6 separate regions of the Homo sapiens genome follow, and all the other regions are reported to be linked to region 6. The links are microRNA targets in miRTarBase. Many come from high-throughput screens and were not tested one by one. Region 6 holds a microRNA gene; each other region holds the end of a gene's coding sequence.

Region 1 (5,224 bases), not on the chromosome of region 6:
TTGAGCAAGCAGGGGTACGTGACTGGGGGCTGCATGCACCGGTATCAGAACGGAACATAACAGGACAGGGATTTTCACAATGCTTTCCCGTACAATGTCTGGAATCTATAGATAACACAAGCAGTTAGGTCAGGGGTTGATCTTTAACTACCAGGCCCAGGGTATGCCCCCGGCTATCTGCCTGTGGATTTCATTTCTGCCTTTTAGTTTTTACTTCTTCCTTTGGAGGCAGAAATTGGGCATAAGACAATACGAGGGGTGGTCTCCTCCCTTATGAACAACACAGATTTGAGCTGTGTGGGTTCAATTATACTCAGATTTCCTCCTGCCTGTGCCACCCCGAAATAACAAGAGCGACCCCTCCTCTTCCTTCTCCTCAGCCTGCTTAACGTGAAGACGATGAAGACAAAGACCTTTATTGTGACCCACTTCCACTTAATAACAGTATATGTATTTTCTCTTCCTAATGTTTTTCTTCGTAACATTTGCTTTTCTCTAGGTTTATTATAAGAATACAGTCTATATTACATATATGATACAACAGATGTGTTAATTATCTGTGTTGTTGGGAAGGCTTCTGGTCAACAGTGGGCTATTAGTAGGTAAGATCTGGGGGAGTCAAAAATTCTGTGTGGATTTTAACTGCATGGGGCATTGGCACCCCTAGCCCCTGTGTTGTTCAAGAATCAACCGTAATATTTTCATAGCACACTGGAATCGACAGAGGGGCTCCTGGGGCTGGAGGTGTCCTGTCTGGGGCTCCAGTTGCCTCAGTTCTCTCTTCCAAGGGCTGAGGGGGTTCTACAATTGTGGCGTGCCTTGGAAATGTTAGGGGAAAAGGTATGGTGACTCGATGGTTTCCAAGTGTTTTGTGTCCCAGAGTATTCTTATCTCCAACCCCCATCACTTCCAGTAACCTGGTGTGTTCCTCCTTGAAAGAGTTCAGGCATGGGTCCTGTTCTGTTCCCTTTTAGCAGCCAAATAACCTTCCCATTAACCTGGAAAAACAAAGACAAAAGTGGCCTTTTTTTCCATGTTATTTATTCACATTCAACTAGCTACATGAGGGGGATAAGCAAATTAATAGGAGCTTTTTGGGGAGGCAGAGGTATGGATGGAAGGGTGGGATTAAAACAAAATAATTTTCAGTGGTTAAGTGGAAGATTTACAAATATCCATTAAAAAAGTACCCTCTGGATAAAATAATCAGAAATAAAATAAATTAGCCACTTCTGATCACTGCATTCCCCAAAGTCTCTGAAAATGGTTTGCACTTTAGACTGTCATGATTTGCAGATATTTACATGACGCAGGTTTCCAACACAGAAAAATGAAGACTAACACTGAGTAACAGATTAGTACAATGCAGAGGAAAATAGAGCAAATGAAAATAGCTATCATCTGGTAGCAAAAATAGATTTATGCCGGTGTTAATATCAAAATAAAGACATTCAAACAAATTATGCCAATACATTGGAACTATTATTCCTAAGACCATAAGGACACCTTCTTATTGCTTCTACTCATAACTAAAAGGTCTGCGGAGATTCTGTAGTAGCCAGAAGGCATAACTTGTAGTGTATGTAGTAGGGGCTACATCAAGGTTCAACAGCCAAATAAAAACTTTATTACTTTTTAGGCTTGACATCTTTAACAGTAGAACAAGATCACTCATGATAAATCTGGAAGATGCAGATGGAAGACAGTGCTTGAAGCCCAAACAAATGATTTACTACAAGTAATTAAAAGCAGAATATGAGAAAAGCAGCAGTGTAAATGACGTAAACATTAAAAAATATATTAGTTTGTATATTTCCCCCAGGAAGTCTCACAGGAAGCACAGGACACCTGTGCGGCTGTTTGGGCATCCTGGGTACTTCTTGCCCTCAGGTGAACTCCCATCTCTTTAGTTAGGACCAGAATCCACCTGGCTTGTAGGAGAGGAACTACATGGAGAAGCTGCATTGAGGCTTTTATTATTAATACCTATGACTCAAGGAATACCAGCCTTGGGGTGCTTTGGGGCCTGGGGAGGGAAGTGACTGGCTCTCCTGCTACACTGGAGACTGTTAGCTCATTTCTGAATGGATTTCCTGCAGCGTGGGGTAGTCGACAGCTGTGACAGGAACATTACCTGAAGTGCAGGGTGGTTACCTGCACAAAGTCCCATTTCCAAAAATTTCTGTGTAATTCACCAGAAATTTTGGATGGAATAATTAGAAAAAAAAAAGAGGTTAAAACATGTAACTCAAATGGTACAGTGATTAGCATTATTTAACCAGGAGATTTAAAGTCCAGAAAATTAAATTCTACCTTGGTTCTTCCCAAATGATGCCACGTTTCTGTTTTCTTCCTCTTAAAACTATAAAATGTCCTAGAGACATACATTTGGGGGAAAGATGCTTTTGAGAAAAGGGACAGAAGGAGAAAAGAAGTCATTTCCCCCTCAAGATAGTTTTAAGCTTATAATATCAGGATGCATCACCAAGCTGTTTAAATTTCAGAAAAGCCCTTTATAGATGCTAGTACTGACTAGATTTTAAAATCTGCATATAGTTCTCTATCATATTTTAATTCGTTCCCACCCCCATCTCAAATAAGATGACTACAGACGTAATGTTTCATCCAGTTGTCCCTGGGACTCTAAAATAAAGCATAAGGGCAAGTGAAATAACATTAGGATAATTAAAGATTTTCCAAATGCCACATGACAGTGCTACGTCCATTCAGGCTGTGCATTTTGTTTTCGTTGCTTCTTTCTTTTTTGAGCCAGTCTCTGGAGCAGGCCAATTTAACAGCCAATATTACCACGATTCTACATTTATCCTCACACTGTGGAAACTACATTTGTTTTCCCCTTGAGTGCCCTTAAATCTACAGCCTGCTTCCTCATGTCTGTGAGCAGAATTTGGATAAATGCTTGAGATGGAAAGAACAAAGCATACACCAAAGAATCTGACTGTGTCATTCAACTGCTTAGAAATGGAAATGATATTCACATTGTGTTCATCTTGGCATCTCGATAAAATGAATCCAATATTTAATGAGTTGTTTTAAAATGCCAGTCACGTGCAGATTCCAGAAGGCTACACATCCACTTTAAATAACTCTCCATTTTGAAAATGCAATATTGTCCAACTGGTTATTTGGTGTGACAATGAAAAATCATGCATTCTTTTCCTGTAATTATTTTACTCTTCATTCATAACATTCGATATGCTCTGAATTTCTTTAAGTATCTCAAAGTGTTTTCTGGAGAAATCTTTTTACTACATCATTATACTTGATATTCCATAGCATTGCTATGGACTTTAGAATAAGAGGCTTAACAATTAGGCTTTGGTTTTAATGTCATCTGGACAGAAGTTGGACATGCTTTGATAACACAATTCAACTACTACACATATTATTGTAATGTGAAATAACACATTTAAAAAGACGAAGGTTCCCCTTTCAGTAGTTATAATCTGTATTATTCAAGACTGCTGCAAAACTCACAAAAGAATGATATGGATAACAAGAAAGTATAGGAAAGGGGTAAGACACTCACTTAAAGCTTTACCAGAACACAACACAAAGCAAGAACATCAATTCTCTACATTTGTCTATAAGGCAGATGGCAACTTTTTATACAAGATCTAAAATATGGTGCTTATTAAGAGGTAGAAAATACTAAAACAGCATTTAAGAAAAACATGTTGAGTTATCCAAAACAATCAGTTATTTTGCTAAACTTTTACAAAGTCAAACTGCTGTGTGGAATAAACTGTATGTTTTATATTAAACTGGGACATTCCATACTCAACAGGGAGGTGATCAAACGGAGGGACAAAAAACGGGGTGGGGTGGGAAGCAGGAAACAGTCTCTTAACTTCTCAAGGACTCAGCTCTCACTAAGGAGAAATTTCCTACTGTCTCTCTGGGATGCTATTGTGATATTTAATTAATTGGAATTCTTTTCTCTTATGAATAATTTCTCTGAGCAACAGGGTACAATTTTGCATATAAGGCAATAGAACTATAGGGAGGAACAAGTTCAAATGCTTCCTTTTCAAGAAGGTGCCGTATACGTCTTATATAAAAATATACATTCCATTAATCTTATATCCTCTCCCTAACCACTAAAATGCAAATGAAAATATTCTTCAGACTCCAGCACCAGCAGAATTGTTCTGTATGAGCAATTCAAGAGCTGTCTGAGGCAAAAAGATATTTCAGCTACCAAATTAAACTTGGGTAGCTTACGCATGGGTGAGTAACCCTGGGAATTCTTATTTCTTAATGCACCTGGGAGAGGTTGATTTTTTTTCTACAACATAATTTTATAAGGCATAAATTTAATTGGAATCTTCCCTAACCTTTGGAAAATTAGTGTTAAAGCTTCTTTTTTTAACCCACACATGAACATTCAATCTTTCATTTTTATTAAATAGTTTATATATAAAAAGAAATGTCAAGGTGTTCTACATTCATATAAACAATCAGGGTAACATTTGAAATTGTAAAGAAACGCACTGAGGAAAATATAGACTTAAAGAGTTACAATGCTAAGCTAAGCACAAGTGATCATCCTAGAGTATCTTTTAAATATATAAACACAGGTTTGTGCCACTTCAGAAGGCAAGCACAGGAGAAATACACTAATGTTATCTTTCTTCTTTACTTTTTCACCATAAGACAGGATGGTCCAGTTTGGAAAAACCAAGATCTTTTCTAAGTTCCAAATAGGTGCCGTTGCTCACCCAAGAGTCATCGTCGGATTTCCTGTGAAAGAAGAAACAATTTCTTGCAGACTCTTGAAACCAGCGTCACATTCTCAAGTCTCTTTCCTTCCTAACCTCCCTGCTTTCCCCATCCTCATTCCCACATGCATTCAGCGTCCCAGAGTGTTGGGACCGGGAATTCTGGGAATTAGATGTCCAGAAATAATTTTGTTACTTTTTTTTTTTTTTTTTTTTTGAGATGGAGGCTCGCTCTGTCATCCAGGCTGGAGTGTAGTGGCATGATCTTGGCTCACTGCAACCTCTGCTTCCCAGGTTCAATCGATTCTCCTGCCTCAGCCTCCCGAGTAGCTGGGACTACAGCCATGTGCAACCATGCCCGACTAATTTTTGTATTTTTAGTAGAGACGGGGTTTCACCATGTTGGCTAGGCTGGTCTAGAACTCCTGACCTCAGGTGATCCACCCACTTCGGACTCCCAAAGTGCTGGGATTACAGGCATG
Region 2 (5,581 bases), not on the chromosome of region 6:
CCACTGCACTCCAGCCTGGGTGATAGAGTGAGATTTCGTCTCAAAATAAATAAATAAATGAAGTATGTTTGATAAAAATACAAACACAAGTCAATAAAAGTCTGTTAAAAATATTAAAAAATCATAAAAACAATATTTTGTACAATATCCATAGATGTAGTTTTCTTCATGTGCCATGCTTTGACTACCTTAACAAACAGCAGGGCTGGGAAAGCCTGTCAGGGATGTTTAGTGAATATGGAATTTATTTGCTTGTGAGTTAACATGCCAGGCTTTTCTTTTTTTTTGAGACAGTCTCACTCTGTGGCCCAGGCTGGAGTGCAGTGGCGCAATCTCGGCTCACTGCAAGCTCCGCCTCCTGGGTTCACGCCATTCTCCTGCCTCAGCCTCCCAAGTAGCTGGGACTACAGGCGCCCGCCACCACGCCCGGGTAATTTTTTTGTATTTTTAGTAGAGATGGAATTTCACCATGTTAGCCAGGATGGTCTCCATCTCCTGACCTTGTGATCCGCCTGCCTGGGCGTCCCAAAGTGCTGAGATTACAGGCGTGAGCCTCCGTGCTCAGCCATGCCAAGCGTTTTTAAAAAAGTAAATCAGCTCTTTGGCTAGTCATGGAGTAAAAAAAAAAAAAAAAAGGAAAAGAGAAAAAATATAGAAAAAAGGAATGACCAATCCTACTAGTTAGGGTGCCAAAAGCACTGAAAATTCATGCCTTTACTTCTCATCTCCTTAATCAGGGATATTAGAATACACTGGTGTAGAGGCTCATAAAGCACCAGTTAAGTCTTCTTCAGGTGCTATATAAGTCATCTATGGCTATTTCAGAAGCAAGTAACTTGAGTATCGTGTGTGAGTTTTAAAAATAATTGAAAATAGGTCAGGCACAGTGGCTCACCCCTATAATCCCAGCACTTTGGGAGGCCAAGGTGGGTGGATCATGAGGTCAGGAGTTTGAGACCAGCCTGGCCAATATGGTGAAACTCCATCTCTAATCAAAATACGAGAAAATTAGCTGGGCGTGCTGGCACGCATCTGTAGTCCCAGCTGCTAGGAAGGCTAAGGCAGCAGAATTGCTTGAACCCAGGGGGCGGGGGGTTACAGTGAGCCGAGATCACGCTACTGCACTCCAGCCTTGGGGACAGAGCGAGACTCCGTCTCAAAAAAAAAAAAAAAAAAAAAAAAAAAAGAAAATTTCTGTCAAGGTAAAAAGAGTAATTGACCAGATTTTTAAAAACTAAAACCTTCAGGAGCCAAAATTACTGACACTAGTGCTCTCATCTTTATATAGCTAGCACAGGCAATTTAGTTTTCTAATATTACTATCAACAATACTCCTCAACATTAATCTTTAAAAAATTACCATTGGCCAGGCATGGTGGCTCATGCCTGTAATCCTAGTACTTTGGGAGGCCAAGGTGGAAGGATCACTTGAGTCCAGGAGTGTGAGACCAGCCTGGGCAACATAGGGAGACCTCGTGTCTACAAAAAAATAAAAACAATTAGCCAGGTGTCGTACCCATACATGTGGTCCTAGCTACTCAGGAGGCTGAGGTAGAGTAACTGCTTGATCCCAGGAGGTAGAGGATGCAGTGAGCCGTGATTGCACCACCGCACTCCAGCCTGGGTGACAGAGCAAGACACTGTCTCAAAAAACAAAAACCAACCCCCCAACCAAAAAAAAATCAGTATTTCCAATATATAGTCAAAGGCCACCACTAAGACTTATCCCACATTCACATGACTTAAATCTGCTGCCCCACCATTATTCTAACATTCTGGAACTGGTTTTTGTATCACTTTCCCCCTTACACATTTTAGTAGCCCACCTAGAGTGCAGATAGACACCACCATGCTGGGGAAGGGCTCACTATGCCCATATACTGGGGGCCTGTTTATCTGACTGACCCTATGCCAGGAGCATGCAGAGGCAGAACTGTGACATACGGACAAAGACCAAATGAAAGCCAGGCTTCACACTGGCAGTTAAGTAACTGGTGGAATCAAGTCTAGAATCCAGTTCTGATTACAGTTAGTATTCTCTCTTCAATAGTTGTTACATTCTGTGGCTAAATTATTCCACATTAAATCCCCTTTAGTGAAAAACGGCACTAAAAGTTACTTCACTATCAGCTTTCAACATTAGAGCCTCTTTCTCAAGAACAGCTGTTCATATTATTTAATAAAATACAAAATAATTCGAGAATAAAGACTATGCTTTCAGGGATCATTTCTATAGTTCGTTACTCGGGAAGTTTCTCTGAACGTGTAAAGCACCGAACAAAAAAAAAAAAAACAATTCAAGAATAAAATCTGGGCAGCTCACAATAAAGTGGAAGGAAATGTTATACAGGTGGTCGCTATAAACATTTCAGAAATCCAATTGCAGTATTATAACTTATGAAAAGAGAAACTACCACATGTAAAAACACAGAAAAGAAACGTAAGTTTTGGAAAACGTAGACTTTTAATAACTGCTTTTATCACCAGGTTAAGCCATGCAGTTACAAAGTAGTTAGAAATTTCTGAAGGGTGTTAGAGTTAAAAAAAAAAAAAAAGCTGACTCTTACACATATATTATCTAGCACTTCATGGGGACACTACTGTTCAAAAGGCCCTGGCCAAATAACTCCCAAATGAAACACTCAACCCAAGGATGTTTTCAGCCCACTGTTAGTGAAGCTGGGTGCAGAATGCAAAGCCTCTAAAAGGAGAGGATACAAAGTCAGGTGAGTAGGGGCCATTGGCAATGCTCAGAGCCAGCCAGACTCCAAACAGGGAGCCCAAGTGGTTTTTTTCTGGGACACTCTACTTGAATTATTGTTTAATTAGTCAACCATAGATCTTCAAAAGAGAACAATTAGTTAACATGATAAAAAGTGACTGCATTCTTTGGACTGTATCATAATTATAGTAAGCAAATTCTGACAGTTTTAATGAAAATAGCCTCCACCATTTTGCAGGTATGAAGATAACTTAATTATCCACAGGGCTTTTAATGTCTGCTGGACAATACATGAATGATAAGCTATAAATGACATTGTTTTATGATATAAAAATACTAGTTTTTTTCATTTATTATTTCTATAGGCATTCACTGTTTGAGTCAAGGTTAGGCTTGTTAAGTGATTAAAGGCAATTTTATTACAGCAGCATGTACTTATTCTATTCTAAAAGAATAATATTCATAAACAGAAACAGGTTTTATATTTGTTTGCAACCTGCAAAATTGAATTATTTTGCTGATATAAAATACTAAGAACTCACTTGAGGACCATGCCACCTTCTGAAAAGGCCACACACCTACTTCTTAAATGTGTTAAAGTTACAGTGTGTCCCAGACTCATCCAGAAAAAATAAGCAAGCAACTGACTGCTCTTGACTGTTCCTCCCCAGCACTAGCACTGATTGTGTTGGGAAAAGCCACAGAGCAAGGCTGCACAGCCAGATAAAGGAGGCTTTTTATTTAAAGGCAAAATACCAAAATGGCTCTCTGGTGTAGGTGATTTCTACTTTCACACTCAGCTTGTACATGATCCGCTAACCTTAATTTCTTTCTCCTTAACGGGCTGACTTGGATTGACTTGTTGAGAATGGTATCCATTATTAATGAGTCAGGAGAGAAAGGGATTTCTGTGGTTACATGTAAACTTGTGATAGGTCTGCAGAAGTTACATGTGAAGAGGATAGTGAGGAAGTCAGCCATGATCCATCTATGTGAAGGTCACACCAGCTTCATTGTACACTTTGAAGACTTTCTCAATGGCATTAACATAGGCAGCTGTTCTCAGGTCCAATCCCAGGTTATACTTCATGGCTGTGCGCATAATTTGCTGAAATGAAAGAGAAAATGCAGTGAAGATGATCCTGACTCAAGTGGCCAGGCCATAAACACACAAGGCCCAGACAGGCCTGGTCCAAGTTACCCTCTCATTGTTTCAAGGCAGGACTTGGGCAGCCAAAGACAAACTACTCTAGCAGCAGAACCTCTAGGCAGGAGGGCCTAATTCTCTGGACTTAACAATGGGGTGGCTGGGTGCGGTGGCTCACGCCTGTAATCCCAGCACTTTGGGAGGCCGACGTAGGCAGATCACTTGAGCTCAGGAGTTCAAGACCGGACTTGCCAACATGGTAAAACCCTGTCTCTACTAAAAATACAAAAATTAGGCAGGGGTGCGGTTGCTCACACCTGTAATCCCAGCACTTTGGGAGGCTGAGGCAGGTGGATCACTTGAGGTCAGGAGTTCGAGACCAGCCTGACCAATATGGTGAAACCCCATCTCTATTAAAAATACAAAAAATTAACCGGGTGTGGGGGTGGGCGCCTGTAATCCCGGCTACTCGGGAGACTGAGGAAGGAGAATTGCTTGAAGCCAGGAGGCGGTGGTTGCAGTGAGCAGAGATTGCACCATTGCACTCCAGCTGGGTGACAGAGCGAAACTCCATCTCAAAAAACTAAACAAAATGAAAACAAAATCAAAAATTAGTTGGGCATGGTGGCTCATGCCTGTAATCCCAGCTACTCGGGAGGCTAAGGGACAAGAATTGCTTGAACTTGGGAGGTGGAGGTTACAGTGAGCTGAAAGTGCGCCACTGCACTCTAGCCTGGGCAACAGGGCAAAACTCCGTCTCAAAAAAAAAAAAAAAAAAAAAAAAAAGGGAGTGATGAAAATGTTCTAGAATTATAAAGTGGTGATGGCTCAAATATATAATAAAGGATGCCGAATTTAATACTTTGAAAGGATGAATTTATACCACATACACCCTATCTCGATCAAAAATTAACAAGAAAAACAACAGCCCTAAGAAGCACCACCTTCTTCACCAATATCTGCTTATGCTATTTCATCATAAATCCAAGCAGATAGAATCTGAACCCAAGAAGAAATTAGGAAAACTGGACTCAAACTGTGGTTGAGGCCTTAAAGTAGGGATCAAGCAGTCAAAATAAGTTTTGCTTATACCAAATTCTATAGTAAGGTAGACTCCCGTAGCTATAACATAGTGGCACATGGAGCTACAATCCAGTTTGGCTAACTACTCCATACTGGGCTAGCTGCCAACATCATTACCTCCTAAATCAGCCTTATTATTTCTTTCCAAAGCCTCAAAAACATATTTGAAGACTCTAAAAAATTGCTTATCATCTGAGACTGAAAAAACATGTGTTTTGCTACACACAAATGAGGACCATTGAACAGATTGATGTTTTCTATCAGCACATACAGTCTGGCGGCTGAGATAGCATGGTTGAGTTGCACTTCATGTGACTAGCTGGAAGGCAAACAGCATCTGCACACATACCCTGGCAGAACGCTCCATTGTGTATGCCAAGCCAGAGTGCACGATGTCTTTCTCAGATGCACCCTATTAGGGAAAAGAACACAAGTTTAACAAAACCACAAAGACCTGCTTTGTGTCCCTGTATAAGATGACAAAGGATTCTCAAGTCAATATACAACCAGACAGAATTTTTTGTCTTTTAGCTAAGATATGTCATTTCTGCACAGTATCAAAGATACAGTATCTTGATACTTACTGAAGCAGTTGCTTGTTGATCACAATTTATTTTTATTATATTTGA
Region 3 (4,600 bases), not on the chromosome of region 6:
GAGAAGCAGGTGAGGGACCTGAGGACCTGGCTGATGGAGGTCCCCTCCTCTACCGGCCCCGAGGCCCCCTGACTGACCCTGGGGCATCCCCCAGCAATGGCTGCCAGGACTCCACAGACACAGAAAGCAACCACGAAGATCGGGTTGCGGGGGTGGTATCCCTCCCTCAGGGTCCCCCACCCCAGCCACCTCCCACCATTGTGGTGGGCCGGCACAGTCCTGCCTACGCCAAAGAGGACCCCAAGCCACAGGAGGGGTTATTGCGGGGCACCCCAGGCCCCTCCAAGGAAGTGCTTCGGGTGGTGGGCGAGAGTGGTGAGCCTGTGAAGGCCTTCAAGTGTGAGCACTGCCGTATCCTCTTCCTGGACCACGTCATGTTCACTATCCACATGGGCTGCCATGGCTTCAGAGACCCTTTTGAGTGCAACATCTGTGGTTATCACAGCCAGGACCGGTACGAATTCTCTTCCCACATTGTCCGGGGGGAGCATAAGGTGGGCTAGCAACCTCTCCCTCTCTCCTCAGTCCACCACTCCACTGCCCTGACTACAGGCATTGATCCCTGTCCCCACCATTTCCCAAGGAGTTTTGCTTTGTAGCCCTCACTACTGGCCACCTGACCTCACACCTGACCCTGACCCCTCCTCACCTATTCTCTTCCTCTATCCTGACCGATGTAAGCATTGTGATGAAACAGATCTTTTGCTTATGTTTTTCCTTTTTATCTTCTCTCATCCCAGCATACTGAGTTATTTATTAATTAGTTGATTTATTTTTGCCTTTTTAAATTTTAACTTATATCAGTCACTTGCCACTCCCCCACCCTCCTGTCCACAACTCCTTTCCACTTTAGGCCAATTTTTCTCTCTTAGATCTTCCAGCAGCCCCAGGGGTAGGAAGCTCCTCTTAGTACTAAGAGACTTCAAGCTTCTTGCTTTAAGTCCTCACCCTTTACATTATCTAATTCTTCAGTTTTGATGCTGATACCTGCCCCCGGCCCTACCTTAGCTCTGTGGCATTATATCTCCTCTCTGGGACTCTTCAACCTGGTACTCCATACCTCTTGTGCCCTCTCACTTTAGGCAGCTTGCACTATTCTTGAATGAATGAAGAATTATTTCCTCATTTGGAAGTAGGAGGGACTGAAGAAATTCTCCCCAGGCACTGTGGGACTGAGAGTCCTATTCCCCTAGTAATAGGTCATATTCCCCTAGTAATATGAGTTCTCAAAGCCTACATTCAGGATCTCCCTCTAGGATGTGATAGATCTGGTCCCTCTCCTTGAACTACCCCTCCACACGCTCTAGTCCCTTCAACCTACCGGTCTATTAAGTGGTGGCTTTTCTCTCCTTGGAGTGCCCCAATTTTATATTCTCAGGGGCCAAGGCTAGGTCTGCAACCCTCTGTCTCTGACAGATTGGGAGCCACAGGTGCCTAATTGGGAACCAGGGCATGGGAAAGGAGTGGGTCAAAATTCTTCTCTTTCTCCTCCACCTCTCAAACTTCTTCACTATAGTGACCTTCCTAGGCTCTCAGGGGCTCCTTCAGTCCCCATCCTATGAGAAACTAGTGGGTTGCTGCCTGATGACAAGGGGTTGTTTCAGCCCCTCAGTCATGCTGCCTTCTGCTGCTCCCTCCCAGCAGGATTCACCCTCTCATTCCCGGGCTCCTGGGCCCTGTTCTTAGGATCAGTGGCAGGGAGAAACGGGTATCTCTTTTCTCTCTTCTAATTTTCAGTATAACCAAAAATTATCCCAGCATGAGCACGGGCACGTGCCCTTCACCCCATTCCACCCTTGTTCCAGCAAGACTGGGATGGGTACAACTGAACTGGGGTCTTCCTTTACTACCCCCTTCTACACTCAGCTCCCAGACACAGGGTAGGAGGGGGGACTGCTGGCTACTGCAGAGACCCTTGGCTATTTGAGTAACCTAGGATTAGTGAGAAGGGGCAGAAGGAGATACAACTCCACTGCAAGTGGAGGTTTCTTTCTACAAGAGTTTTCTGCCCAAGGCCACAGCCATCCCACTCTCTGCTTCCTTGAGATTCAAACCAAAGGCTGTTTTTCTATGTTTAAAGAAAAAAAAAAGTAAAAACCAAACACAACACCTCACAAGTTGTAACTCTTGGTCCTTCTCTCTCTCCTTTTCTCTTCCCTTCCTTCCCCTTCCATCTTTCTTTCCACATGTCCTTTCCTTATTGGCTCTTTTACCTCCTACTTTTCTCACTCCCTATCAGGGATATTTTGGGGGGGGATGGTAAAGGGTGGGCTAAGGAACAGACCCTGGGATTAGGGCCTTAAGGGCTCTGAGAGGAGTCTACCTTGCCTTCTTATGGGAAGGGAGACCCTAAAAAACTTTCTCCTCTTTGTCCTCCTTTTTCTCCCCCACTCTGAGGTTTCCCCAAGAGAACCAGATTGGCAGGGAGAAGCATTGTGGGGCAATTGTTCCTCCTTGACAATGTAGCAATAAATAGATGCTGCCAAGGGCAGAAAATGGGGAGGTTAGCTCAGAGCAGAGTAGTCTCTAGAGAAAGGAAGAATCCTCAACGGCACCCTGGGGTGCTAGCTCCTTTTTAGAATGTCAGCAGAGCTGAGATTAATATCTGGGCTTTTCCTGAACTATTCTGGTTATTGAGCCCTTCCTGTTAGACCTACCGCCTCCCACCTCTTCTGTGTCTGCTGTGTATTTGGTGACACTTCATAAGGACTAGTCCCTTCTGGGGTATCAGAGCCTTAGGGTGCCCCCATCCCCTTCCCCAGTCAACTGTGGCACCTGTAACCTCCCGGAACATGAAGGACTATGCTCTGAGGCTATACTCTGTGCCCATGAGAGCAGAGACTGGAAGGGCAAGACCAGGTGCTAAGGAGGGGAGAGGGGGCATCCTGTCTCTCTCCAGACCATCACTGCACTTTAACCAGGGTCTTAGGTACAAAATCCTACTTTTCAGAGCCTTCCAGCTCTGGAACCTCAAACATCCTCATGCTCTCTCCCAGCTCCTTTTGCATAAAAAAAAAAGTAAAGAAAAAGAAAAAAAAATACACACACACTGAAACCCACATGGAGAAAAGAGGTGTTTCCTTTTATATTGCTATTCAAAATCAATACCACCAACAAAATATTTCTAAGTAGACACTTTTCCAGACCTTTGTTTTTTTGTGTCAGTGTCCAAGCTGCAGATAGGATTTTGTAATACTTCTGGCAGCTTCTTTCCTTGTGTACATAATATATATATATACATATATATATATATTTTTAATCAGAAGTTATGAAGAACAAAAAGAAAAAATAAACACAGAAGCAAGTGCAATACCACCTCTCTTCTCCCTCTCTCCTAGGGTTTCCTTTGTAGCCTATGTTTGGTGTCTCTTTTGACCTTTACCCCTTCACCTCCTCCTCTCTTCTTCTGATTCCCCTCCCCCCCTTTTTTAAAGAGTTTTTCTCCTTTCTCAAGGGGAGTTAAACTAGCTTTTGAGACTTATTGCAAAGCATTTTGTATATGTAATATATTGTAAGTAAATATTTGTGTAACGGAGATATACTACTGTAAGTTTTGTACTGTACTGGCTGAAAGTCTGTTATAAATAAACATGAGTAATTTAACACCTCTGGTTGTTTTTGCAGACTTCCTTTGCCTTGCTTTTCTACTAAGAGGGAGGGGTCCTCCTTGCAGTATGTTATACCAACTACTGAACAGTTTAGGAGGTAAACAAAAACGAAGAATTTTCAGCCTAGACTGGGAAATGGAGGAGATTTTCCTACCAGGAAGGAGTGCCTTCAGGATAGGAGAGAAAGTCTGACTTGCCTGTCTACCCAAAGTAGAAATTAATCAAACATTTGTTGAGTACCTACTGTGCACAAAACACATTCTATGCCCAGGGTGAAATAATGCGAATGATGACAATCATAGGGTCTACCACTGCTTGAGCATCTCATAAATGCTAAGTACTCATTGAATTGTAGAAACACCTACAAAAGGATGATCACAATTATTGGTAAAAAAATAAAAGCCCAAGAGAGAATAAATACCTTATCCAAGGCTCATCAGCCAGTAAGTGACAGAACCAGAATTTGAACCCAGGGGTGTGTGATCCAAAGCATGTGCTCATCGCTTTATGCCAGGGAATGCAGCCAGTGAAACCCCTAAGCTAGAAAAATCCAAAGTAGGAACATAAATTTGTTTCTGTCTTAAATAGTAACTATTTTCTGTTCTCTTCACTCTGAACTTTTTTATGTTCTCTTCCATCTACCTCATTGCTATTCCATATAGTAATGTCTGCCTTCTGTTTTCCACAAGATTACAGTGAAGTGAAAATTAGAGACACTCCTATCTAGAGTCTATTATTTTCCATGTCCCACTGAAACTGGCAAATTCAAAGTCAAAACAGACAGGAAAGCTGGAAGTGGTGGAGGACACCTGTCCTCCCAGCTACTTGGGAGGATCACTTGAGCCTAGGAGTTTGAGAACAGCCTCAGCAACACAGGGCAACACCATCTCTACAAGAAATTTTAAAATTAGCTAGGCATGGTGGTGCATGCCTGTAGTCCCAGCTACTCGGAAAGCTGAGACGGCAGGATCACTTGAGCCCAGGAGGTCAAG
Region 4 (5,581 bases), not on the chromosome of region 6:
TTCATTCTTATCATTAGGATTGAGTGCTTTTGCCCTTTGTAAGTATTTCAGTGAGATGTAGGAAGAGAGGGGATAGTAGAAGCATAGGGGCTATTGGGTGATCTGATATGAGAATGCTTTACTGCAGAATTTCCCAAAGTATGTTCCTTGGAATGTTGTTTTAGGAGAGTCTTATAGGTGATCCACAGTTTTAAATCTCCTTTTTGGAGATTTACTATGAGAATTAGCAAATTAAAGGCTCTGAGAAGTCCTGAGTAAAGAAGTCAAGTTCACTTTATTTAAATCTCAGCTTTTTTCTCCCACACACCACTTTTTCACAGCTGCATTTCTGACTGGACCTGGCTCTAGGCTTAGGCTGGCCAGTAGATTTCCTTCTTGGCTCTCTCCTCCTTGGAGTAGCCAATTTCCTGGACAACTGGCTCTTTTGTCTTTTAACAGTACTTGGCACCAAGGTGTTGTGATCTTCCCACTGGTTTTTTCTCTCTTTAATAGCAAAGAACACTAACTCTAATAGATCCTGCCATATTCTCTCCACTACCTGCTCTAAATATGCAACCCAAATGCTGGACCCTTCCTCTTAATGGGAGTGAATTAGTGTGTGTGTATGGGTGGTCGTGGTGGTGGTGGTGTTTGTTGTGTATTTGGGAAGGAAAAGTGGTCTGTGAAATCAACCATCTGTGAAATCTAGCCATGTGGGTATCTGTCTGTGAAATCTAGCAATCTGGATATCTACACATGGGCTCTCTTTGCCACCCTGCTGCCCATGTGAGAGGTGCTGTAGATGTCTGCTAGTGATGGGAAGTAAAGGGAGTTCTATTCTCCACCTTCTGGAGCCCTGAGGAAGGTTCACTCAGTTCTTCATTTCAAATTTACTATAATAGAAGTAAAGTCTTATGGCACTAGTGATGAAGTATAGGGCATATCTTCCCTGGTGCAGCTAGGTATGTACCATCCCTTGGCTATAGGCAGGGGCAGAGGTAAGGGGGTACAAGGCTGTTTTCGTACACTACAAAGCATATCCCTCAGGTCCCCTTTTTATTCTTCATATGGACACTTCCCCTCCTTCCCTGTCTCCTCACCAGAGTATCTCCTGAGATCTTCATCTCTTCTCCACTCAAAAATTATGGTCCTTCTTTTAGCCATTTTCTGAGTCTTGCAAACCTTTAAGACTTTGGTAGGCCGTAGCTATCCTTGTGCTTTTAATTTCTGCAGACAGGCAAGAAAAAAAAAGCTGTGGCTCCTAAAATCTCTGTGTTTGTGTAAGCACTCATGGAAATCTATACTATGAGGAACATCTTGCTTTTTCCCTTAGGTCTGGATGACTCCAGATCTTTAGGGAATACTACATATCTTGTATTTAGAGGGATAATTGCCTGCTAACACTTGATGTTTGCAACGCTTTTGGGCCTGATTGTGTAGAAAGAGCATTTTTCTCTTCTAACATTGACTTAAATTACAAAACCCCTGCTTCTGTTATCTGTTTCTGTATAACAAATCACTCCAAAACATAGTGACTTAAAAAATCCCCACATAGTTATCTTGCTCATAAATCTGTAACTTGGGCAGGGCTCAGCAGGGACGACTCATCTCTGCTCTGTGATGTCTGCCACCTCAGATGATGAAATATGTAGTCTTTCCACAGGGTCTTTCCTGCATGGTGGCCTCAGGGTAGTTGAAATTCTTATGGTATCTCAAGGTTCCAACAGTGAGTGTTCCAAGAGATCAAGGCTAAAGCTGCTTTTAAAACTTAACCTCAGATGCAATTTGAGATGGGGTCATTACTATGTTTTGAATATAGTTTGTCCCCTCTGAAACTCATGTTGAAATTTGATTGCCATTGTGGCTATATTGGGAGGTGGGCTGAATGGGAGGTGTTTGGGTCATGGGGAGAATCCATAATGAATAGATAATGCTATCCCACGGGTGTGAGTGAGTTCTTGCTCTCTTGGGACTGGGTTTGTTACTTCAAGAGTGAGTTGTTAAAAATCAAGGCTGCTCCTTGTGTTTGGTCTCTCTCTATTTCTTTGCACATGCCTACTTTCTATTCTGCTTCTCTGCCGTGTTATGATACAGCACATGGCCACCACCAGAAGCCAAATAAATGCCAGCGCTATGCTTCTTGGACTTCCTAGCCTCTAGAATTGTCAGCAAAATAAATCTCTTTTCTTTATAAATTAACCAGTCTCAGATATTCTGTTATAGAAACAGAAAATAGACTAAGACAGCCTTGTAGTACTACTTCTGCTGTGTTCTATTGGTCACATAAGACCAGCCCTGATTCAGTGTGGGAAGGGACTACACAAAGGAAAGAATATGAGGAGGTAGGGATCTTTGGGAGACTACCTTGGAGGCTAGATACCACATCTTCCTTCTATTCAACTGTAAAAGGCAAACTCATTTTTAAGATTCATCTTAATTAAACATGCATATGATGTGACATCATTGTACCAAAAAGTTAATGGATATCATGACAGAAAGAAGAGATCAGGACACATGTTTCTGATGCTCCTTTCCAGCCACTGTATTGTTTTTATTAAATGGAATACTGAATTAGAGGCAAAGAGCATTTGTACTAGGCATCCAATTTTACAGAAAGGCAGTCATATGATCTACCCTGGCTCTCAAAGAATCCATCTTGACATCGTACACCTGGTTTTGCATGTGGCATCAGAGAGGGAGGAAATTCTGGATGCTGGCTTTAAGATAAGAGTAAGGCATCCAAACTTCTGTGAAACCAGCAGCCATCCCCTCTCAGTTCCCAACTTCACACTGAGCGGGAACAAAAGAAATAAATGGAGATGAATGATGCTTTGGTTTGGGAAATAATGCTTACATGCATAGGATGCATCCACTTAAGTCTTTTAAAAACCATTGTTCTAATGATTTTATTGCTCTGTAACAAAATAAATCAAACTGACATTGATTCCAAGGTGATTGTGAATTGAAGTTTAACCATGTTAATGACTAATAGGATGGAAGTTTGAATGCTAGGAGGCTTGAGTAGGAAGGCATCACAGTATATTGCATTCTTGTAAACATTAGTATAAGTACAGAGTAATAGAGATTCCCCTAGATGATGCTAATTGGGCCCCTAGTTCCTCTACTTTCTGAAGGAAGAAGCATTAGGATTCTTTTCCATTTTACATCTGCTAGGATTTCATATACTGCCCTAAAGAAGAATGGACTCCAATTTGGCTACATTTCTTCTAAGATGCTGTTGTTGGTTCCCCTCCATGTTCCTAGTTCCCTGCAACGTAGGCACAACCTTCAAAGTGGAGTCCTATAGGACAGCATGAGGGAAAAGTGCTGCCTCCAATAGAGAGGATGTAAAATGAAAATGGAGACTTTTTGTGATAGTCTCTTCCCCAGGTCCATTGCCTTCAAGCAGGGACTTCATAACCGAAAGGGCTGTATAATCTTCAATAAGTAAGAACTCTCTGCTCCACCTTTCCCCACTTCTCCTCCCCACTGTATCTATGTCTCATGTCCTGCTCTGTCACCCAGGCCAGTACCTAGAACAGCAGGAAGGATGGCCTGTCATCAGTCTTTAGGCAGGTCAGGTCTTTGGAGGTGATGCCATGTCAACATAGCCCTCACATCTAATGCACACCACCAGATGTACTCAGAGGACTGAAGAGAAAGAAAGAACAAGCTGGACACTCTGGACAGCACAATCACAAAGAGAGGAAGCCTGGAGAGCACTGGAATGCTGGGGGCTGGGAAGCAGGTCTTTCTGATGCTTTGCACAGAGATTGCTTGGGGCCTGAAATGTGATGACACTGACTGATTGGTACTGGTGACATAGGTCTGGAAGCAGGATAATACTTAGCTACATGGATCTGAACCTTGCACTGGGCTACCCTGCAAACTGGAGCACACTCCAGTGTGTTAACTTACACCACACAGACAGGAAAGGAGTGGGATCCTGGGGGACAGCTGTGGTTTATAGTCCTACTGCTGCTGCCAAGCATGGCATCTGGCTCTGCCTGCTGACTCTCTCAGCCTCGTCCCCACCTGTGGCAGCCTGGATATGCTGTGCAGTGGGCCCTCTGTTTTGTGGCTATTACTCCACAGTCTCAGATACTTGATTCTTGTCTCACTGTTTCCTGGGGGGCTGGGTCAGTGCGGCAGCTCCTTTGGGTTGACGCAGTGTGAGATGAGGCAGAGGCATCGCAGCAGAGCTTGCCTACTGCAAACGGAGGAGGAGCCAGCAATCAGATGTTTTCTAGTACATCAAGGGGGATGAGGCCTTTCTTTTTTCCACTGAGGACTCTGATAAAACCATCTTGTTCTTCTTCAGAACTCACGCAGATCTGAATGCCAAGGAAGAAAAAAAACAAAATACTTTACTGTCAGCAAGAACGAAGTTAGAACCTGCAGCTTGAATCCCTGCTGACTGAGGTTGCAGGAGCAACAAACTGGAAAAGGGAGAGCAGTTTTAGGGTGGGAAACCAGCACAGTGAGAAAAAGGTTTGATAAAAAATTAGGCAAAAACCTAGGTTTGGAATGAGGCCCAGGCATTGAATGTTTTCTGAAATTTAGCTTTATGAATGAGGATCAATAAAATGAGGATTAATAGTACTGTGACCCTCTGAAGAGTCACTGTGAGGACAGAATGAGATAATAATGTTTGTCAAGGAGCCTAGCATGTGGCATGCAATGAATTCTCAGGACATTATTTTAAAGGACCAAAATAATAGCTATCATTCAGCAGACTCCTGTCATGTGCTCAGAATTTTATATGCACCTCATATAACATCAGGAAGTCAAAGGGAACTATTTCACTCCTGGCCTCAAGCAAATAGATGCTAACATTTCCCATATTCTAAAGTAAGGCCACCTATGCTAGACTTTAAAAAGGGGTTGGTAAACATTCATTTGGATACTCTTGCCACTCACCACTCATTGGCCACTGAAGGGCATAGAAGGGTGGATGTGGGCAGATGAAAATTAGAAGAGGTTTATGAACAGAACTATTGTTGTGTTGTGAGTTTCTCTTGCCTCACCTGCTTCCATGGATGACAGGCCTTGTCTTAGGTTGGATTCCCCAGAAACAGAACCTGACACAGGGTTCCTTGTACAAGTGACTTATTGAGTGGGTGCTCTCAGGAGGTGGGAAGTGAGGGATGCAGGATGGGGCAGGGGAAGGAGCCCAGCAATGAGAGGTTTTCAGCTGGAAAGCAGTCTAGCTTGGTTCGCCTGGGAGCTCTGGAGCATGAATTGCATCACAGAATTGTCTCACTTTGAAGCTAGGGTTTCAGACTTTTGAACCCCATGTCAGTCAGTCATTGGCCATTGGCTGGCCTGTAGTGTGATGGGCATAACCTTCCAGGAGAGAGGGTCCTGCTGTCTCATAAGGCCCTCCCTGAGAAGGGCAGCTGTGAGTTGTTCGTGGCCAACATAGCAACTGGGAGATGAGTGCACCCACCTGGTGAAAGGGATCTGAGCAAGGCTCCAACAGAAGCCACCACAGTGGGCTCTTCCATCATGTAGAAGAAGGGGCTTGAATAGGACACTCAAAGAGCTTGATTTGTGACTCCTGGAGCTTGGGACATACAATGGACTGGTATCTGACTCGTGC
Region 5 (3,000 bases), not on the chromosome of region 6:
AGCCTCAACCTTGGCTGCACTTGGAATCACCTGAGGAACTTTTAAAACTAAGGATGTCAGGCCGGGCGCAGTGGCTCAAGTCTGTAATCCCAGCACTTTGGGAGGCCGAGGTGGGTGGATCACCTGAGGTCAGGAGTTCGAGACTAGCCTGACCAATATGGCGAAACCTCATCTCTACTAAAAATACAAAAATTAGCTGGGCATGGTGGCGTGCACCTATAGTCCCAGCTACTGAGGAGGCTGAGTCAGGAGAATCACTTGAACCCCAAAGGCAGAGGTTGCAGTGAGCCAAGATTGTGTCATTGCACTCCAGCCTGGAGACTCTGTCTCAAAACAAACAGACAAACAAAAAAACCCCAAAAAACTATGGATGTCTGGTCCCTACACCCAGTGATTAAGATTTAATTTGTTTCGGGTGCAGTCTGTAGACATCAGGGTTTTGAAAACTGCTCAGGTGATTGTAACATACAACCAAGTTTAAGAACCACTGTTTTTTTAGGTCAAGATCAAACGTTCTCTTTAAAGTGCCCACGTGGCCTGGCATATTTGGCCCTTGGTCACTTTCTAGCATGTAACTGCCACTACTCAGTAAATAATGAATGTAGGTTAATTATTAATGTAAGTTAAAAAGTAAAAAGCAAATTAATGACAGGATGAAAAGCAATAGGAGAGTTTTTTTTCTTCTTTCAGGTAGAAGATCTAAAGAGTTCAGAAATTAACTTCTAAATCACATTCTTTAATTAATAATAGTCTTAATAATGATGACGATAAGCATGAGGGTAATAATGTCCTGTATGACAGGCATAGTGCCAAGTGTTTTATATGCCTTATTTTATTTACATGCATTATTTTCCTCACTCCCCTTTCCTGACACATACGCACCTGCATGCACCCCCAAATGTCTTTCTCACTTTCAGACTTTGTCTCATGCCGAATTTCTGTCTGAGAGATCTCCTCCCAGTTTGCCTAGTTGAAAAGTCCTTCAGGGCCTGGGGCAATCCCCATGCCATCCACAATATACACAGTAATGGAAAGGTAAATCTCTCTCCCACCTGGCCTCCTTCAGCACTTACTTTGTGTGCTACATATTTTAGCATTAACTCAACAATTAATTTCCCTAAAACCTCCTCTAGTTGTTTCAGGTACATAATTCTTATTCTGACTTTAACAAGATTGAGGACTCTGGAATGACTTGAAGCATCAATATATATGTTAGTCACCAGACATTTCTTGAGTACCTACTATACACTAGGATTGTAGATTTGGCCTTCAAGGAGCTCAAAATCTAATAGGGGAAACTGATGGATAAACAGAAAATTCAGTGCTACCTAACATGTTCTCTATTTGAGGCATGACTGGAGGGCTGTGGGATTCTGAGGCTGGCTGGTGTGATTGGCCTCCCCTAGAGATGGGTCAGAGAAGGCGGATTGATCGTCACTAGTTGGCCTCTTCAAATCCACTCTCCACTCTGGGAGGCTGACCAATGTGTACCTCATCTATGAACTGACTCTTCAATTCATTCACTTATTTAATCACAGCTACTTACTAAGTCCCTGCTACATTTAAGGCACAAGCCTGACCTCCGGGGCTACAGTGCTAAACAAAAGAAGCCTGACTTCTGCCCTCAAGATTATTATCTCTTAGGAAGAGATAGGTCTTACATAGTCACAGGAGATGTGGGATTAAATATATATGCTATGATCTGAACATTTGTGTCCCTTCAAAATTCATATGTTGAAATTCTAACCCCAAAGTGATGGCATGAGGAGGTGGGAAATTTGGGAAGTGACTAGGTCACGAGAATGGAGCCCTAATGAATGGGATTAGTGCCCTTAAAGAAGGGACCTAAGAGACTGCCTAGCCCCTTCTGCCATGTAAGGACACAGCAGTAAGACAGTCCTGTAAAAACTAAGAAGTGGGCCCTCACCAGACACTGAATCTGCCTTGATATTGGACTTCCCAGCCTCCAGAACTGTGAGAAATAAATTTCTGTTGTTGATAAGCCACCTAGTTTATGGCTTTTTGTTATAGCAGCCCAAATAGACTAAGATAATATAATTACTAGTTGTGAAAATTGCAATGTAGGAAAAGAAGTGTTCCATGAGAAAATAATCAGGAGAAATGTCACATTTGTGGTAAGAACTTAAGGGAACTAGAGAGATTAATTGAATTAATAAACGAGTTCAAATGAAGGCAAATTGAAATAACTCAAGTCAATTTTTAGTATTTTTCTCATTGTTTCAGAGTGTCTGCTTACCCTACCAATTAATAATGTTTCTATGAGTGAACAAATTGTTATCAAAGAACTAAGAGAATTTTCATCCTACTTTGTTTTATTGGGCGTTGATTGTTTCAGGTGTCTGCTTGTTTTGTCTCTAACATCCTGTAAGTTCTCCCTGGTCATGGATTGAGTTTTCTCAGTTTTCTATTTTACTTTATTTTTTTGATGATCCAAAGTGCTGTAAGTAGGACAGAGCTTCTAGTTAACAGTCAACATCCAGTTGCTGAATAAAATGATTGAGTTTTGTAACTAATAGAATAGTTGGCTGTAGACAGCAAAACCTAGTCTTAGGCCTGGAAGCTGGCAGAACAAAGAAAAAAGTGTGCTGATTTGCATCTTCTCTTAGTTGAAAGAAGTCTTTATCCAATAGTCAGTGCAGGGGTCGACATCCACAGCATCTGGTCCAGCCTGTGTCCAGAGGCCCTCAGCAAGCCTGCGTCTGTACTTTCCGCCCTGGACACGAGGCCCCTCCATTCTGAGGTGCTGGATTGTCACACTCTCTTCTCCTTTCCTGGATGCCTGCTCTGCATACAGACCAGGAGCTCCAGCAACTCCAGCTCCCATCTGCTTTGGCTCCTGCAGAGGAAATTTCCCAGGGAGGAGAAGGTTAGCATATGGCTAAGAAGGAAGGGCCTGTCTGGTGATGAACAGGGAGGGGTGTGTGGCACCCTTGGGAGAGGAACTGGCCTCCCCTCCTCTGGTCGACTGCAGCTTGTTGG
Region 6 (5,581 bases):
CGCTTCTTAAATGCTTCTGTGCATTCCAATCCCCTGAGGATGGTCTGATTCCGGATGCTGGGGTAGAGCCTGAGACTCTGCATCTCAGACAAGCCCCTAGGTGATGCCTCTGCAGTCCACAGTCTGGGCTGTGAGGGACTACAACAGGGATGGAGACAGACCCAAGGGAAGCCACGCAATTACTCTCACTTGGAATTTGGAGCCAAAACACAGGGGGAAGGCATCTGTCAGTGGGGGCTCCACAGCAGGGAGGGGAGGATGTGGAGAGATGGCTGGGGCCATGTGAGGTCACCAGCCTGGAGACAGGAGTAAGAGTGAGGTGGCCTCTGGGGGACCAGGAGGCAGTCCCTGAGGCCTGGAAGCCCCTTGGTTCATGCTCTGGGAGTCTGTGCTCTCCCTGTGGCCTAAACACATACACTCTTGCCCAGCTTCCCTTCAGCCAGCTGGAGAGCGAGGAGGAAGCACCCTGGCCAGACAGGAGCATGCCTGGGAGCCTCCCAGGAAGACACAACAGGTGTGCAGACACAGGTTCGGCTAGGGTGGAGCCCACCAACACTCAGCCAGAACATGCACCGTGGAAAGAATCCTGCTGCTGTGGTCTGCTTCTGACTGAAATCAACTGCTTTATCTGCTATCTATCATAACAAAGATAAATAAAAAATGAGATGTAGTCATGAAGCGGGAGTGCCTACCCTGGGTCAGGCCCTCTGTCAAGCAATGCAAAGACAGAGAAAAATAAGCCGAGGTCCCTGCGCCTCCAGAAAGAAACGCACGCTGGTCAGGGGAAACAGACAAAGGGCAAATAAATAGAAACACAGTCTCGGAAACGCACAGGGGACAGAGACTGACTTCCTTTCTACCTGTAATGTCAAGCTTTTCACTTTTTCTGCAATTGTTACAAGTAAAATACTATCTTTTATGAGTAACTTTTGTTGGTTGGCTCACTTAAACCATAAAGTGAAGTAAAAACATATGACTAAATAGGAAGTTTTTAAAAATCAGAAAACCTGGGAGTCAGAAGGCTCTTAAAGGCGAATATGGTCCATTCACCTGCTTCAGTTAAGACCACAACTACTTCATCCCAGTCAGATGTGTTTTTTTTAAAAGCCAGATTATACTTTAATCTATTTAAGTATAGTTTCAGCCCAACTGCACTGAAATCAACCTTTTCTGTTTTAGCCAACATTTTAAAAAATCTAACACAATGGTCTAATTTTTTAAAATTTTAATTAAAGGCCCATTTAGAAAAGTAACCAACTTTTGATATTCCCTGAGGTGGAACTTAAAACAGATTTTAATGTAACTGCTAACAAGGACTAAGCAAAAACTGGGAAGAAGTGTATGATAAAAAAATAGATAAATAAAGAGCAAAGGCTTGCATAAAATGTTCCAGTCACTGGATTATAATGCTTCGTTACATTTGATTTTTACCTTTTCGAGATTATACCTATGATACTGTATTACAATTTAACCAGTTATCACCTAGTCTTCCATAAAGGTTGGTGAGAAATGAAAATTAAGTAAACACAGTATTACATAAGTGCTTAGAAAAGTTTAACTGTGAAAACAATGAACAGATTTAAAAATATTCATTTGTTCATCCCTAAAAGTTTACAGAGCACTCACTGTGGGCCCGGAACTGTGCCAGGGGCCCTGGAGAGAATGAGGAGCAAACAGACATGGAGCTTACATGCTAGGCTTGTAGTGTTTTAGATGGTAATACAGTCTCTGCTCAAAATCACCAATATAAAAACATTAAAGTCCCAGCTACTTGGGAGGCTGAGGCTGGGGAATCGCCTGAACCTGGGAGGTGGAGGTTGCAGTGAGCCGAAATCACGCCACTGCATTCCAACCTGGCGACAGAGCAAGACTCCGTCTCAAAAAAATAAAATAAAATAAAATACTGAGGTCACCCTTGAAAACATAAGCCAACAATGAAAATTCAACTTCTTTCCCAAAAGGAAAACAACAATAATGAAACAGAATAAGCTACCTGAAAGAAAGCTTCCTCTTTCATTACTCTTTATCAAATTACTGTCTCTCACATATGTCCTTTTATTTCCAGGCTTATCACCACCCTCCAACCAGGCCTCCACTGCTGTAGCAACCTTTTAACTGGCTCAGGAATCCACTCCGCACACTGGGGCTCTTATCAGTGAGGATGGGCTGGTTCGTGCTGCAGTAACAAACAATCCACAAAAATCTAAGAGGCTTAAAATGAAAGTTTCTTTCTTTCTCATGCCACTTAACAGCTGTGTGGCCTTGGGTACACTACTGAACCATTCTGGCCCTCAGTCTCCTCATCTGCAACATGGGAGAGGTATCATCATTAAATGAGGTAAGAGACGAATACTCAGAACTGTGCCTAGGACACAGGACACACTCAATAAGCAACTACTATTGCTGTAATCGTTGTTATTCTTGACACCACAAATCTTGATCAGAAGCCTTCCTAGCTTCTGATCAAGGCTTCTGATCAAGATTTGGGGTATCAGAAATAATGGGATATGACTACACCCTATCATCTAGCCATCTGTCTCCCACAGTAGATCATGAGCTACTTGAGAACAAGGACTGCCTCTGACTCCACTGTTGAACTGCAGAGGTTCACAGAAAGTGGCACATGGTAAGCACTCAGAAAGTGCTTGCTGCACTAAAGGGAACGATGTTGAATAATAATCACTGGTACGTGAATAAACCCCACATGTGCTGGACATACACAGAGTCCCATATTAATGAGGGCACACTCTCAGATGCATCTGGCCCGCAGGAAACCTGACTAAAAGCACATGATGAAGATAGGGAATGTCATCTGTAGGTGGGAAAGATGGCTTTACAGGCCCAGAACCAAGCCACAGTTGAGCTAGGCCACCAGTACATGGGCTACTGCTCCCAGGGAAGTCTAAGCAAACGAAGGAGGATGTTCCACGTTGTGGAATTAGCACAAATCTATCTCCACGTGGGGAAAGAATGTAATTCAAGATTCCCCCTGTTCCTCCTTCCTTTCTTAGGGCCATCATTCCCCTGCCCCATGCTCTCCTGGCACACTGGCACACAACAGCCAGCATGGAAAAAACTTTCTGAGGGGATAGAGGTGCTCTCTGTACCTTGACTGGGGTGATAATTACACAGGTGCAGACATCTGTCAAAACTTATCAGCCATTCATTAAAAATCTGTGTTTAGCTGTATGTAAATTAGAAAGAGAGAGAAGCAAGCGATGGACAGTGCTGACTGTTATATGGTCCCTTAGCTCATGCCGGCAGCTGAGGTGTGACCCCATCCCACCCCATCCCCTACAAAACTAGAGCTTTATGAAGGGCAGGGTGGCTGGGAGGGAGGAGCTGATGCAGCTTGGTAAACTGGCCTCTGGAGGACATTATGAAACCTTGCTCATCCTCGTGCAGCCTCAGCTCCCTCAGGAGGCCTTTCCTCCTGCTTCATGGCACAAGAAGAGTACGGAACCCTCACCCTGATCAGACTGCTCTAGAATCTTTTTTGTTTGTTTGTTTGACACGGAGTCTTGCTCTGCCCAGGCTGGAGTGCAGTGATGCTATCTCGGCTCACTGCAACCTCTGCCTCCCGAGTTCAGGTGATTCTCCCGCCTCAGCCTCCCGAGTAGCTGGGATTACAGGCATGCGCCACCACGCCCGGCTACTTTTTGTATTTTTAGTAGAGACAGGGTTTCACCATGTTAGCCAGGCTGGTCTTGAACTCCTGACCTCAGGTGATCCGCCCACCTCAGCCTCCCAAAGTGTTGGGATTACAGGTGTGAACCACCATGCCCGGACTCTAGAATCTTTTACTATTTATCATTGTCCCTCTAAGCTTCAAGTTACTTGAGGGTGAGGACCTTTTCTTCCCCTTCCTTCTCTCCAGCACCTCGCATAATGCTTGGCACACAGTGTGCTCTTAATCAATATTTGTTTCTCTGGCAGTAAGTTTCTAAAGTTATCTTTAAAGATATGAGATATACTGCCTTTAAATAAGAATGGTACTTCTAAGTAAGAATAATGTCTAAATTACATTAAATCTTGTTAACTCTAAAGATTTAAATCTCTTCTTTTTTGGAGAGGTATGACTCCTACTGTCATGATTTATGACTCCATAAAAGCCATGTATTTACTGGGCAGAATAAACGGTAAGCTTGGTATGCATAACACAGCACTAGAATTCTTGCTATAAAGATTACTGATGCCTCAGGCTGTTATAAACGAGATGTCACATGAAGCTATGCATCAAGAGCTTGCCCTGAAGACAAAAACATCGCATACTGCTCTATCAAGTCCACGTTCAGTTACAGCTCCTGGCGCTCCGCAGTGGCTATGTGTATGCACATGTGCGTGTGCAAACACATGGCCAGTGTGTTTAAATGAACACCTGGCAACCCAAAAACAACATCTTAAAGATAGCTGTCAGAGCATGAAACATTGCACTAACCAGGAACTTCCATGGTTGTGGATTAGCAGAATAACACATCAAAGCAACCTTGAATTACGTGTGATATGCCTTAGGAAACTTCAGTTTCTGATGACCAATAATTTGAATCTAATCTTTTGAACCAAAAAGAATTATGTATTTTGTTCCAAGCACAAAGTCAGTGGCTATAGCTCAAGCCATGAATATGTAATTTCCTAAAAGTAAAACTGGTTTTTCTGAGTCTTCATATGTATTCTAAATGGCTAGAGAAGCCTGCAGTTAACAATGGTGGTGCTCCATGGAGGCACTGGTGGTCTGTCAAGTACCTATGCTTTCCACACGCTGGCTCAGCTAACTCCAAACAACCCTGCAGGGAGACTGTGGCCCTGCTCCACAGCCGAGGGACACGAGCAGTGTGGACGACTCTGAGCCAAACGTCAGGCGGGAGCTGCGGAAGCTCAGGACAACAGGGGCTGGCAGGGGCAGGGTGTGGAGGCAGCACCAGGTGTCCCCTACCCACTGCACGGGGCTTCCTGACGCCACTGTTCTGGTAACGAATAGTTGCATCCGTCTCTGCCATATACTTTGGAAGCATCAAATTTAGTTTGAATTTGTGTGTCATCACAAAAGCTCAACTTTTTTTCTTCTTTTACAAATTTCAAAAGAAGTAAATAGTATCCACAGCAGAGGTCCAATAAATGCCAATTTTATAAATACAGGCTCAACGAATATGACTGGAGAAAGTGTGCCAGAGTTTATTTCTCTAATAAGTCCAAGTTGAATCATGTAAGAAAAGTACTAATAGAGAATAATTCTTAAAAGAGAATCAAACATGAATGAATATAACTCTAATCACATTTTTAATAAATATAATTTCAAAACAATATGACTTATAAGGTCAGCATATGAAAAATGTATTGAATCCTATGTGTATGTAAAAAAAATTTTATCCCATCCATATTTACTAATACTGTACTAATGTTTTTTTTTTTCTAAAATGGCTAGAAATGATTTTTCAAGATTAAGAACAAATCTATCTTAGAGAATACAGAGAAAGAACCCATTTCTTTCTCCCTCCAAAGTACTGAATGAAACATCCACACCTCCCTTTGGAACATTCTCCAGAGGCCTTGAACGGGGAGCAGCGAAATCCTGAATCCCAGC

The links. The annotated mature microRNA hsa-miR-4762-3p reads CUUCUGAUCAAGAUUUGUGGUG and lies in region 6 at 2,426-2,447, opposite strand. An mRNA with a match to its seed (bases 2 to 7 or 8) in the 3' UTR can be bound and repressed. Matches are read on the target gene's strand: a 7mer-m8 pairs with bases 2 to 8, a 7mer-A1 pairs with bases 2 to 7 and ends in A, and an 8mer does both.
Region 1: the mRNA of OSBPL3 is a reported target of hsa-miR-4762-3p. Seed matches in the 3' UTR shown: 7mer-A1 at 2,078-2,084 and 7mer-m8 at 1,231-1,237.
Region 2: miRTarBase lists GLUD1 as a target of hsa-miR-4762-3p. Seed matches in the 3' UTR shown: 7mer-A1 at 2,520-2,526.
Region 3: the mRNA of IKZF4 is a reported target of hsa-miR-4762-3p. Seed matches in the 3' UTR shown: 7mer-m8 at 3,259-3,265.
Region 4: miRTarBase lists STAC as a target of hsa-miR-4762-3p. Seed matches in the 3' UTR shown: 8mer at 3,731-3,738, 7mer-A1 at 3,105-3,111 and 8mer at 2,497-2,504.
Region 5: miRTarBase lists C8A as a target of hsa-miR-4762-3p. The part of its 3' UTR that is shown has no 7-base or 8-base seed match.

What each region holds. Positions count from the first base shown.
Region 1 is chr7:24,795,516-24,800,739 of GRCh38, forward strand. OSBPL3 (oxysterol binding protein like 3) reads right to left here. Exons shown (of 23, transcript NM_015550.4): 23 at 1,025-4,764. The coding sequence ends at 4,668. It also overlaps a transcript of GSDME not described here. Among named protein-coding and RNA genes, the nearest start is that of GSDME, 41 kb to the left of the region's middle. RefSeq lists an enhancer at 1-238.
Region 2 is chr10:87,048,041-87,053,621 of GRCh38, forward strand. GLUD1 (glutamate dehydrogenase 1) reads right to left here. Exons shown (of 13, transcript NM_005271.5): 12 at 5,302-5,364; 13 at 2,162-3,830. The coding sequence ends at 3,711. Among named protein-coding and RNA genes, the nearest start is that of FAM25A, 31 kb to the left of the region's middle.
Region 3 is chr12:56,034,829-56,039,428 of GRCh38, forward strand. IKZF4 (IKAROS family zinc finger 4) reads left to right here. Exons shown (of 8, transcript NM_022465.4): 8 at 1-3,607. The coding sequence ends at 503. Among named protein-coding and RNA genes, the nearest start is that of RPS26, 4.8 kb to the right of the region's middle.
Region 4 is chr3:36,544,923-36,550,503 of GRCh38, reverse strand. It overlaps STAC (SH3 and cysteine rich domain), which reads right to left. Exons shown (of 11, transcript NM_003149.3): 11 at 2,497-4,313. The coding sequence ends at 4,215. Among named protein-coding and RNA genes, the nearest start is that of STAC, 170 kb to the right of the region's middle.
Region 5 is chr1:56,917,422-56,920,421 of GRCh38, reverse strand. It overlaps C8A (complement C8 alpha chain), which reads right to left. Exons shown (of 11, transcript NM_000562.3): 11 at 2,199-2,857. The coding sequence ends at 2,706. Among named protein-coding and RNA genes, the nearest start is that of C8B, 47 kb to the left of the region's middle.
Region 6 is chr22:45,757,438-45,763,018 of GRCh38, reverse strand. It overlaps MIR4762 (microRNA 4762), which reads right to left and starts at 2,495; the gene lies at 2,421-2,495. The region is part of intron 9 of ATXN10 (ataxin 10); the gene reads right to left. RefSeq lists a silencer at 1-210 and enhancers at 1-368, 4,354-5,352.